4 separate regions of the Homo sapiens genome follow, and regions 2, 3 and 4 are each reported to be linked to region 1. Evidence: microRNA targets listed by miRTarBase, many of them from high-throughput screens and not tested one by one. Region 1 holds a microRNA gene; each other region holds the end of a gene's coding sequence. Distances are between the middles of the regions.

The links. The annotated mature microRNA hsa-miR-5582-3p reads UAAAACUUUAAGUGUGCCUAGG and lies in region 1 at 925-946, shown strand. An mRNA with a match to its seed (bases 2 to 7 or 8) in the 3' UTR can be bound and repressed. Matches are read on the target gene's strand: a 7mer-m8 pairs with bases 2 to 8, a 7mer-A1 pairs with bases 2 to 7 and ends in A, and an 8mer does both.
Region 2: the mRNA of CD59 is a reported target of hsa-miR-5582-3p. The part of its 3' UTR that is shown has no 7-base or 8-base seed match.
Region 3: miRTarBase lists ERP44 as a target of hsa-miR-5582-3p. Seed matches in the 3' UTR shown: 8mer at 596-603, 7mer-m8 at 801-807, 7mer-A1 at 1,711-1,717 and 7mer-m8 at 2,630-2,636.
Region 4: miRTarBase lists LMAN1 as a target of hsa-miR-5582-3p. Seed matches in the 3' UTR shown: 7mer-A1 at 1,925-1,931.

The regions. Positions count from the first base shown.
Region 1 is chr11:46,750,828-46,754,070 of GRCh38, reverse strand. MIR5582 (microRNA 5582) reads left to right here and starts at 879; the gene lies at 879-946. CKAP5 (cytoskeleton associated protein 5) reads left to right here. Exons shown (of 44, transcript NM_001008938.4): 37 at 574-761; 38 at 1,361-1,436; 39 at 2,537-2,725; 40 at 2,816-2,953.
Region 2 is chr11:33,707,138-33,710,379 of GRCh38, reverse strand. CD59 (CD59 molecule (CD59 blood group)) reads left to right here. Exons shown (of 4, transcript NM_000611.6): 4 at 37-3,242. The coding sequence ends at 254. Among named protein-coding and RNA genes, the nearest start is that of C11orf91, 7.9 kb to the right of the region's middle.
Region 3 is chr9:99,979,952-99,982,951 of GRCh38, reverse strand. It overlaps ERP44 (endoplasmic reticulum protein 44), which reads left to right. Exons shown (of 12, transcript NM_015051.3): 12 at 239-3,000. The coding sequence ends at 340. Among named protein-coding and RNA genes, the nearest start is that of STX17, 75 kb to the right of the region's middle.
Region 4 is chr18:59,328,182-59,331,424 of GRCh38, forward strand. LMAN1 (lectin, mannose binding 1) reads right to left here. Exons shown (of 13, transcript NM_005570.4): 12 at 3,237-3,243; 13 at 1-2,948. The coding sequence ends at 2,912. Among named protein-coding and RNA genes, the nearest start is that of CPLX4, 11 kb to the left of the region's middle.

The DNA of each region.
Region 1 (3,243 bases):
GCCGAGATCGTGCCACTGCACTCCAGTCTGGGCAACAGAGCAAGACTCTGTCTCAAAAAAAAAACAAAAAATTTCACAATTAGAAGCACACCGATTAATTTTGCCTATTACTAGAGGCTTGGGGGAGTGTGGTGATTTTGTTTTTTCTTTAATACTCTGAATTTTTACAAATATAACATAGCCGGGCGCGGTGGCTCACGCCTGTAATCCCAGCACTTCAGGAGGCCAAGGCAGGTGGATCACGAAGTCAGGAGATCGAGACCATCCTGGCTAACACGGTGAAACCCCATCTCTACTAAAAAAAAAAAATACAAAAATTAGCCCAGCGTGGTGGTGGGTGCCTGTAGTCCCAGCTACTCGGGAGACTGAGGCAGGAGAATGGCATGAACCGGGGAGGCAGAGCTTGCAGTAAGCCAAGATCACGCCACTGGCACTCCAGCCTGGGCGACAGAGGAGACTCCGTCTCAAAAAAAAAATACAACATAATTGAATATTTATCAGAATATGCCACCCACATTTCTTTACTCTCTATATTGAGTTTTACACCTCCCTGACACAAGTATGTCTGGATAGCTGTTTCAGATAGAGAGCCTTGCCCGGGAGGCCTCCACTGGAGTACTAAAAGACCTAATGCATGGCCTCATCACCTTAATGCTGGATTCTCGGATTGAAGATCTTGAGGAAGGACAACAGGTCATCCGCTCTGTGAACCTCTTGGTGGTGAAGGTTCTGGAGAAGTCAGACCAGACCAACATCCTGAGGTATATCTGTACTCTCAGCCAATAGAGCCTGGGGCATCCTCGCTTTTGTTTACACTTAGAAACCATAATGTCCGTAAGTCAACTTCCTAGGCAACCTAACAATCATAATCAACTTCCTAGGCACACTTAAAGTTATAGCTACATCAGTTATAACTATATCAGTTAAAACTTTAAGTGTGCCTAGGAAGTTGATTTATTACTCTTCTTCATCATGGACCAAAGGTATTTTAGCCTGAGACCATAGCTAAAACTAGTAAATACTTAGTTAGCCAGCCAATATCATGCATTTTCTATAATAGGACTGTAAAGTTTGTCAGTTACATTTTTCTTGTACATTTCAGGTACATTTTATTCTTTCTCAGCTACCAATGACAATGAAAAATAGAGTCACAAACCTTACACTTACCAAGTGGTGACTTAAAAGGCTTAAACAATGTTTATTTTCTTAACTGAATGTCAGGTAGTCCAGGACAATTCCTGATCCATGACCTCTCAGTTTATTAGATGAATAGAGTAATCTCACTTGCCCTTTCAACTGCTGATTCTAATTGGAATGCAGGTTTGAAACTTAATGCTGTTGTGTTGGGTTTTTCTTCCAGTGCCCTACTTGTTTTGCTCCAAGACAGCCTGCTAGCAACAGCCAGTTCTCCCAAATTCTCAGAGCTTGTTATGAAGGTGAAGTTGAAATGATTTGATCTCTTTTCTTTCAAAGATGCAATCACTTTGTTAAAAGTATGGGGAAAGAGGAATTGGAGCTAAGAAAGACATAGGCTCAAATCAACCAAGTCACACCTGAAAATATATTTTTCGTAATAAAAATATTAATAAATTTTTAAAAATTTAGCCAGGTGCAGTGGCATGCACCTATAGTAGCAGCTACTCAGGAGGCTGAGTTGAGGAGATTACTTGAACCCAGAAGTGAGCTTGATCATACCACTACACTCCAGCCTTGGCAACAGTGAGACCCCATCTCTTAAAAAATATATATATGGTTTTTTATATATATGTGTATTATATATATGTATATATGTATTATATATGTATATCTTAATATGTTATATATGTATATAATACACGTGTGTGTGTGTGTGTGTGTGTGTGTGTGTGTGTGTGTGTATATATATATATATATATATATATATATATATGAATTGGTCTTCAGTTTTTCCCTTCCTACAATTTATATTCTAAGTTCAGGCCTAAACAGTTCGTGGCCTCAAACAGTGAAAGGGAGGAAATATTTTGTAAATATTTTACTAATTCTCTGAGGATCAAAAGGAAAGAAGTTTGAAACAGATTTCATTTATTTTGGGGAAAAAGATATCTACAGCCCTATGATATTTGGTCTCTTTTGTGAAAGAGACCAAATGAACATATTTATAACATTGTAATACTGTTATTACACTGAATTAGTATCAGATATTTTGTCCCCTTGCATTAGATTTGGTTAAGCAACATGAACTACTTTACTCTCAGGAACGAAGGAAACCCAAGAGAGAATTTCTACCAGGTTAAATGATGGCCCCTAGCTCTGGGGAGTGGGAAGGAGTAGAGATGGATGATTAGATGAATGACTGGACACACTTCAGCTGGTGTCATGGTAGAAGTGATTAAAAATTTTCATGTTTTAGCAGCTGAACTTGAAAGATATGATGTGCCACATTTATAGCCCTGGCCATCTTTTAGAAGTGAGCTCAAAGCTTAGGGAAGATGAATGGTGACAAATTATCCTCATTCTTCAGTCACTCCTAACTCTTTTATTCTTTTTTCAATAGTGTCTCTGGAGAATGGTTCGACTGTTGCCTGATACCATCAATAGCATTAACCTAGACAGAATTCTTCTGGATATCCACATTTTCATGAAGGTCTTCCCCAAAGAGAAACTGAAGCAATGCAAAAGTGAATTTCCCATAAGGACCCTAAAGACCCTGCTACACACCTTATGCAAATTAAAAGGGCCCAAGGTGAGTAAGAATCGCAACTGGTCTCTGAGGGAGCTTGAGAGAAAATCATGGAAATGGCAGTGCTATCAGTCATGCATGTGTCTCCCTCAGATCCTGGACCACCTAACGATGATCGACAACAAAAACGAGTCTGAGCTGGAGGCCCATCTCTGCCGGATGATGAAGCACAGTATGGACCAGACTGGGAGCAAGTCTGATAAGGAAACAGAAAAGGGAGCATCTCGAATAGTGAGTGGCCTGACTTGAAAGATTGAGGGACATGAGGCTACACCGGAAGTGATCTTATCTAAGGTGTAGGTCACCAGGATATGCTTTCCGAAGGTCCAAGGTGAAGGCTCATGGACTGGTTGAATCAGTCTCCTGCTGTGGTGCAGTAACCATTTCCACCTTGAAATTTTAAAATCTAAACTAAGTATAACCATGTGTTTTTTGGTCCCCAAGAAAGATGCCTAAGGCATTGGTCACCAGATAAATAGCTAGTTCTGCTTAACATGGAAAGAATATGTCAGTTCCTTCTC
Region 2 (3,242 bases), 13 Mb from region 1:
ACTTACTTTCTTACCCTTGTGTGTGTCTCCCCACAGGGTTACAAGTGTATAACAAGTGTTGGAAGTTTGAGCATTGCAATTTCAACGACGTCACAACCCGCTTGAGGGAAAATGAGCTAACGTACTACTGCTGCAAGAAGGACCTGTGTAACTTTAACGAACAGCTTGAAAATGGTGGGACATCCTTATCAGAGAAAACAGTTCTTCTGCTGGTGACTCCATTTCTGGCAGCAGCCTGGAGCCTTCATCCCTAAGTCAACACCAGGAGAGCTTCTCCCAAACTCCCCGTTCCTGCGTAGTCCGCTTTCTCTTGCTGCCACATTCTAAAGGCTTGATATTTTCCAAATGGATCCTGTTGGGAAAGAATAAAATTAGCTTGAGCAACCTGGCTAAGATAGAGGGGCTCTGGGAGACTTTGAAGACCAGTCCTGTTTGCAGGGAAGCCCCACTTGAAGGAAGAAGTCTAAGAGTGAAGTAGGTGTGACTTGAACTAGATTGCATGCTTCCTCCTTTGCTCTTGGGAAGACCAGCTTTGCAGTGACAGCTTGAGTGGGTTCTCTGCAGCCCTCAGATTATTTTTCCTCTGGCTCCTTGGATGTAGTCAGTTAGCATCATTAGTACATCTTTGGAGGGTGGGGCAGGAGTATATGAGCATCCTCTCTCACATGGAACGCTTTCATAAACTTCAGGGATCCCGTGTTGCCATGGAGGCATGCCAAATGTTCCATATGTGGGTGTCAGTCAGGGACAACAAGATCCTTAATGCAGAGCTAGAGGACTTCTGGCAGGGAAGTGGGGAAGTGTTCCAGATAGCAGGGCATGAAAACTTAGAGAGGTACAAGTGGCTGAAAATCGAGTTTTTCCTCTGTCTTTAAATTTTATATGGGCTTTGTTATCTTCCACTGGAAAAGTGTAATAGCATACATCAATGGTGTGTTAAAGCTATTTCCTTGCCTTTTTTTTATTGGAATGGTAGGATATCTTGGCTTTGCCACACACAGTTACAGAGTGAACACTCTACTACATGTGACTGGCAGTATTAAGTGTGCTTATTTTAAATGTTACTGGTAGAAAGGCAGTTCAGGTATGTGTGTATATAGTATGAATGCAGTGGGGACACCCTTTGTGGTTACAGTTTGAGACTTCCAAAGGTCATCCTTAATAACAACAGATCTGCAGGGGTATGTTTTACCATCTGCATCCAGCCTCCTGCTAACTCCTAGCTGACTCAGCATAGATTGTATAAAATACCTTTGTAACGGCTCTTAGCACACTCACAGATGTTTGAGGCTTTCAGAAGCTCTTCTAAAAAATGATACACACCTTTCACAAGGGCAAACTTTTTCCTTTTCCCTGTGTATTCTAGTGAATGAATCTCAAGATTCAGTAGACCTAATGACATTTGTATTTTATGATCTTGGCTGTATTTAATGGCATAGGCTGACTTTTGCAGATGGAGGAATTTCTTGATTAATGTTGAAAAAAAACCCTTGATTATACTCTGTTGGACAAACCGAGTGCAATGAATGATGCTTTTCTGAAAATGAAATATAACAAGTGGGTGAATGTGGTTATGGCCGAAAAGGATATGCAGTATGCTTAATGGTAGCAACTGAAAGAAGACATCCTGAGCAGTGCCAGCTTTCTTCTGTTGATGCCGTTCCCTGAACATAGGAAAATAGAAACTTGCTTATCAAAACTTAGCATTACCTTGGTGCTCTGTGTTCTCTGTTAGCTCAGTGTCTTTCCTTACATCAATAGGTTTTTTTTTTTTTTTTTGGCCTGAGGAAGTACTGACCATGCCCACAGCCACCGGCTGAGCAAAGAAGCTCATTTCATGTGAGTTCTAAGGAATGAGAAACAATTTTGATGAATTTAAGCAGAAAATGAATTTCTGGGAACTTTTTTGGGGGCGGGGGGGTGGGGAATTCAGCCACACTCCAGAAAGCCAGGAGTCGACAGTTTTGGAAGCCTCTCTCAGGATTGAGATTCTAGGATGAGATTGGCTTACTGCTATCTTGTGTCATGTACCCACTTTTTGGCCAGACTACACTGGGAAGAAGGTAGTCCTCTAAAGCAAAATCTGAGTGCCACTAAATGGGGAGATGGGGCTGTTAAGCTGTCCAAATCAACAAGGGTCATATAAATGGCCTTAAACTTTGGGGTTGCTTTCTGCAAAAAGTTGCTGTGACTCATGCCATAGACAAGGTTGAGTGCCTGGACCCAAAGGCAATACTGTAATGTAAAGACATTTATAGTACTAGGCAAACAGCACCCCAGGTACTCCAGGCCCTCCTGGCTGGAGAGGGCTGTGGCAATAGAAAATTAGTGCCAACTGCAGTGAGTCAGCCTAGGTTAAATAGAGAGTGTAAGAGTGCTGGACAGGAACCTCCACCCTCATGTCACATTTCTTCAATGTGACCCTTCTGGCCCCTCTCCTCCTGACAGCGGAACAATGACTGCCCCGATAGGTGAGGCTGGAGGAAGAATCAGTCCTGTCCTTGGCAAGCTCTTCACTATGACAGTAAAGGCTCTCTGCCTGCTGCCAAGGCCTGTGACTTTCTAACCTGGCCTCACGCTGGGTAAGCTTAAGGTAGAGGTGCAGGATTAGCAAGCCCACCTGGCTACCAGGCCGACAGCTACATCCTCCAACTGACCCTGATCAACGAAGAGGGATTCATGTGTCTGTCTCAGTTGGTTCCAAATGAAACCAGGGAGCAGGGGAGTTAGGAATCGAACACCAGTCATGCCTACTGGCTCTCTGCTCGAGAGCCAATACCCTGTGCCCTCCACTCATCTGGATTTACAGGAACTGTCATAGTGTTCAGTATTGGGTGGTGATAAGCCCATTGGATTGTCCCCTTGGGGGGATGAGCTAGGGGTGCAAGGAACACCTGATGAGTAGATAAGTGGAGCTCATGGTATTTCCTGAAAGATGCTAATCTATTTGCCAAACTTGGTCTTGAATGTACTGGGGGCTTCAAGGTATGGGTATATTTTTCTTGTGTCCTTGCAGTTAGCCCCCATGTCTTATGTGTGTCCTGAAAAAATAAGAGCCTGCCCAAGACTTTGGGCCTCTTGACAGAATTAACCACTTTTATACATCTGAGTTCTCTTGGTAAGTTCTTTAGCAGTGTTCAAAGTCTACTAGCTCGCATTAGTTTCTGTTGCTGCCAACAGATCTGAACTAATGCTAACAGATCCCCCTGAGGGATTCTTGATGGGCTGAGCAGCTGGCTGGA
Region 3 (3,000 bases), not on the chromosome of region 1:
AACAAGCCCACAGTTAATGGCCCTGTGGCAACCCTGCCCTGGAGAATCTCAATAAGAGCATTTGAAATGAGGAAAGCAAGATTTCACATTTAAATATCTTGCTTTGGCACACAGTTGCTTTTATTGATTAATAAGCAAATAATTATAGGGGAACTACTATTCATCGAATACACTTATTAAAATATTATAGCACCATAAACTATATTGGTATAAAAATGTTTTATTCTTTCTTTTGTAGCAAGCCCAAGATGTAGCAAGCAGTCCACCTGAGAGCTCCTTCCAGAAACTAGCACCCAGTGAATATAGGTATACTCTATTGAGGGATCGAGATGAGCTTTAAAAACTTGAAAAACAGTTTGTAAGCCTTTCAACAGCAGCATCAACCTACGTGGTGGAAATAGTAAACCTATATTTTCATAATTCTATGTGTATTTTTATTTTGAATAAACAGAAAGAAATTTTGGGTTTTTAATTTTTTTCTCCCCGACTCAAAATGCATTGTCATTTAATATAGTAGCCTCTTAAAAAAAAAAAACCTGCTAGGATTTAAAAATAAAAATCAGAGGCCTATCTCCACTTTAAATCTGTCCTGTAAAAGTTTTATAAATCAAATGAAAGGTGACATTGCCAGAAACTTACCATTAACTTGCACTACTAGGGTAGGGAGGACTTAGGGATGTTTCCTGTGTCGTATGTGCTTTTCTTTCTTTCATATGATCAATTCTGTTGGTATTTTCAGTATCTCATTTCTCAAAGCTAAAGAGATATACATTCTGGATACTTGGGAGGGGAATAAATTAAAGTTTTCACACTGTGTACTGTGTTTTACTGATTGGTTGGATATTGCTTATGAAAATTCCATAGTGGTATTTTTTTGGATTCTTAATGTGTAACTTAAACATACTTTGAAGTGGAGGAGAGTCATAAGACAGAACATTTGGCAGGAATTGTCCTTATGAAACAAGAAAAAGAAAATGAAAAGTATTATTAAGCTTCTGTGTTTGTCTAAAAATGTGGCATATGGATGGCATTTAAAACTTTGAATGAATTATACCTAAATCTGGGACAGGGAGGTGACAGTGGAACAGGCTACCAATCAGAACTAGATGACTTTTAAGGCTCCTCCTATTATGAGACTTCAATTTCCAAAGAGAAGAACTAGCAGAGAAATTGTATTTCAGTAATTTTAAGCTCCTTCTGTCTTGTAGAGTCTTGTTATAGTTGTATAAATCAAAAACACAGAATAAGGAACATATTTAACTTTTTTTCATTATAAAATGGTTAGAGGACCCTACCCCCTCTAGATTCCCTGATTTCCCCAGGCCTGCAGCATACAGTAAGATGGGTCCCTGTGCCAGGCCTCAATACTGCCAGGGAATAAAACCAGAGGGAGAGGACCCTCAGTGTCATATCAGGAAGCCCAGTGCCAGAGGACAGACAGGTTCAAAACTGGCTTTTCCTCTGGGCCTGGGTTGGTGCTATAGGCCAAGGGTCATTTTATACTTGGGTATAAATCAATCCCAGTTTGGGAAAAGATTATTTTTAAGCTTAAAAGGCTGACATGTGCCATTATATGTAGTATGTAATATATGTAACATCTTCCAATTCTTTTAAAATAAAATTAATATTTATAATGGATATTTAATGATTGTTATTTTTAAAAACCAGCTTATAATTCCTCGTTATGCATGATTTATCCAAAGTTTCCATAGTTTTATTCAAAATAATAAATGTTAATAAGGTGATAAGGGGTATATTTAATGTATTGTATCAAATTGTGAATAAGAAAGTAGGATGGAGCTTTCTAGAGGTTGGGCCTTAGTTCTGTTATCCTCATTGCTTTTAACCAATAAGTTAAATGAAGTTAGAGTTATGGTCTTCAGGTTAGATTATGGACCAGATCTGTGAGGGTCAGCATGGAAATTCACATTCAACAAGGTAGCACACAGGACCAAGAGCAGCACATGCAATCAACTGGAATAATATAGTAATCCTGTAACTGGGTTTGAAAAAATAATCAACAAAAGATACAATTCAAGGGTTAGGTTGCAGAGAGCTGGCTTGAGAGTAGTTATTATGAAAAAGGCCTCAAGGAGTACGTGTTCAGTATGCTCTAAGATGATAAAGTGGCTGTTAAAAAGGGAGTTGATTTGAGGAAGTATTACTTAGCATTCATGCATATTGGGCTTAGGCTCTAGCCCTGCCACTATCATTGTCTTCTCTGGACTGTGAAGTCACTGAGGACAAGGAAACTAAATTTAATGTCTGTATCACTAGTGCCTAGAATTTCTGGACACTTAGTAGTCACCATCAGGCGTTTATTTAATGAATGAGAAGCAAAGTGACCTTGGTTACTTTTTTACCCTGAGGGGCTCAGCACTCATTAGGACTTGGTGCCTAATTTTATAAAAAGTCACTAAGCTCAAGTGCTTGGATGAAAGGACAGCGTGGATAAAAAGGTTTTTAAAACATGGATGTTAAGGCTGTTTTGCTTGGAGAAGACTTGGGACTGGGACAGTCTTTAGATATTATTTGAAATGCTGGCACTGTCTATCTGGATCCCAGGGCTTGAACTAGGATTTGAGGAAGTCACAGGGAAGCAGATTTCAGTCTGACATTTATTCAGTGCAAGTTTTTTGGTGCTGTAGTATATGATGAAAGATGTAAAGCTGAATAAAGCATTATTTCTGCCCTAGAGTTGTTCACAGCCTAGTCAGGCATATGGATATGTAAACAATGACTGTAACGTGTTATAGATGTAAAGACAAAATAAAGGTTAAAGAGGGCATAAAGGAGCACTCAATTGCAGAGATTTGAGGACATTATTTTTATTTTGAGCTTTAAAAAGATGAATAGGTGTTCTCAGGAGGTAGGGATCTGGCTGAGAGGGAATAATCTGAGCAAAGGTATGAAACAGCCTAATGCATTAGAGAAAAAAGTTCTTTTAGTAAGGCATTTGGGGTTGGGGAAGCTAGAAAAAGAAATGGGAGCTGGTCACAC
Region 4 (3,243 bases), not on the chromosome of region 1:
TGCAGTGAGGCAGGCAATCCCTTGTTCAAGTCATTTCTGTTTTCCCTAAGTTATCAAAAAGTACAACTGTCTGATATAAATTGTTACCATAATCACAATCAGGAAGGCAAAGAAGCTTTAGCAGGCAGGCTTGAAGATGGGAGTTTTCATGGCTTGACCATGAATGATCTCAAGATGATTTCATAAGATTAAAAGCCATCACGAAAATACTGAAAGCAACAGGTAATAATCTGGATTCAGTCTGTAGTTGCTCATGAACCACGCGTTTTAATAAAAGGAACATTAAGTAAATTGTAGGTATAAAAGAATCAGTGCATATCTGTTAATGTCATTGACAATAAAAATATATTATCTTCTCAGCTCAGCTCTAAATTAACAAAACACCTATTTTTTTTTTCCCACTCCTCATTTTAGTGGTTCTCAAACATTGGTGTGCTCAGAATCTCCTGAGGTGCCTATTGAACAATGACATCCCAAAGCCCCACCCCTAAGATTTGATTCAGGTTGTCTGAAACCAGGCGCCATGACCCAGATGGTCCATGGATCATACTTTGAGAAACACTGATATCCCCTTAATACATAACAAAACATTGTTTACTGTTTATGACTTCATGGTAAAGTTTTAAGCTGAATAAAACATTCAAACAATTATTAGAACACAAATAGGTACATTAAATAAGGATATAAGCCATTACGCAATTGCATTTTCCTTTTAAAAGTGGCATCATAGACACAATGACTTACATAAAAATTTTAAAATCAATTTTGTTTTAATCCAAGGCACCTGTAAAACACTTGCTGGTGTGAGAGAAGTGAACAAATTCAATTATACAAAATAGTACAGAAATGAAAGAATCCTGGCAGTGATTGATTTTTCCACAGAGCAAACCTTTTTGTTCAGAAATGAGCTCCTTAAAGTCAATGATTTTGAGAAAAACCACACTTCAAATATGATACACATCATGTGAACTACTTTGCTGAGTGATTTTCAAGCAAAGTATATCACTAAGTATAAAAGATAAAAGGCTCATGCTCATGCTGTTTCATAATAGCCATCTCCATTTGTAGTAAGAATAATCAGAATGATTCCCCTTGAATTTCAGCCTGAAAAATGTATACTGCATAGATCTGGTATTCCTTTAATGCACAGGCACATATGACCATGGACTTTATAATACTGGATTTGGCAGCCTTTTATCTCAAGAGGATTTCTCAAGTTTCATAGTTTACAACTTAAATATTCCTCTGAAGGTATTTAATTTTTTTTCATGGAGCAAGAGTAAATTCTGTGATGATGAAGCCTCTGAAACATGAATTTCAAAATGTTAACACTACAAAAGAAAAATGCTAGAGAAGCATTTTCTGTGTTGAAATGACTGAAGTAAAGTGAGTTATCACTGGCATATTCTCTTTCAGTGTTCTAGGATAAATATCAACATAAAAAGCAACGCCAGACTGTTTGCACACACAGCACTCGTTTGGTATTGCTATAATACAGAGTTCTTCAGAAAGTCTTTATATATAGATTTTAGGTCGTTAGCCCAATCTGTAAATGACATTTGAGAGCAAACCTAGGGAGGCTTGGAATAATTCAACAGTACTATTTTATAAGATAGTATTGTTTGGAATTCTATGGCAAATGAAAGACAACCATTTTAGCTAAAAGAAGTAAAAGAGTATTTTGAAGGCAGCAAAAATCAGTATAAATCAGCTGTGAACAGAATTAAATTTGCATCTTAAAATGTCATTTACAGACTGTTTCTGTAATACCTAGAAGTATGCACAAAGACTATAAAAACTCCTTCCAGTCTGACATTTCAAGGTTAAGTTTACTAACAAGTGCTTCACAATGTCCTTAGTTCTGGCACTAAAAGGAAACAATTAGAAGTATTCACTGTTTTTCAAATTTTGCCTTCAAGAATCTTAAAACTGCTTCTACTACAGCCTCCTTGATTTAAAAGAGTATGCAAATGGTCACTAACCCCAGCCAGCATGAAGTAACTAATGTAAACCAGAATGTAGTGGCAGGTTTTGTGAATTTAAATCCTCAGATCATGCAATTTGAGCTGAATTTACATGCTGTAGTAAAGGGAGAAATAAATTCCTTAAGTTACAAATATAAATATAAAAATTATTTTCATAATATTGACCTGACCCCATTGGAATGAAGACATTCAAGAATATGGGCAATCATGAATGAATACATTACCAGGCAAAATACCTATAAAAGCCATTCTCAGAGGAATGTTTCCACCCACAAGGTTTTTTAGGCAAAAAGCAGCTATTAATTTTCCTCTAAAATTTCCTTTAAAAGTGAAATATATCATTGATAAATAGAGGAAAAAAAAATTTCACTTAACATTTTGAAGTCTATTACCAGATCCTTAAAGCTCTCAGACAAAATATTCTTTGATTTCAAAGGAAGTTGCATTAAGATGAAAGGACTGCAGGCCCAGGCCTTTGATTAGGAAGTCTGACCTCTAAAAAAGACTTTGGTTACAAAATAAACCTGATGGGACTTCTTAATTAGACCTCATATTCTGGGAGGCATGAGGGCAAGTGTGTTTACGTTATACAGGGAAACCTGCAATATTGGAGACTTAGGGGGTAACATTCATATCCAGGGGTTGCCCCCACTTTATTTACCCTCTTACTGGTCAATATTCTGCTCAGAGGCTGCATCATACTGACCAGAAATTCACTGAAATTTAGACAGATTTACATACTGTGAACAAATTAAAATGTGGTTGTCTTTGCTTTAAGGTTTATTCTTAACTGCAAATCAATGTTTAAACAGTTATTTTATTAAGAAAATTAATAATTTAGACTATGAAGCAATTTAAATACTTAAATTCCCTCAAAACGACATCATTTTGTACACAAATAGATGAAGTACACAGGAAAATGGTAGTCAAAAGAATTTTTTGGCAGCTGCTTCTTGCTGAGACCTAATGAAAAAAAGAAACAAACACTTAAAGAAGTTCTATACGCTTAACTTTGGAAAGAAACAGGACTATTTAAAATTAAAATATCAATGCCTTTTGAAGTATACAACGCATTAAGATAAACATATATTCTACACGTGCACTTTATGTGAACTGAAATGAACAGAAATCACAATAAACTTAATTTTATAGGTGGTGAAAATTGTATTATGAACATAGATAACTTAGTTGAATATTTCTAATTAAACAGATGCAGAAAAATATTGGGTCACATTTTATCAAGAGACTTACCTATACA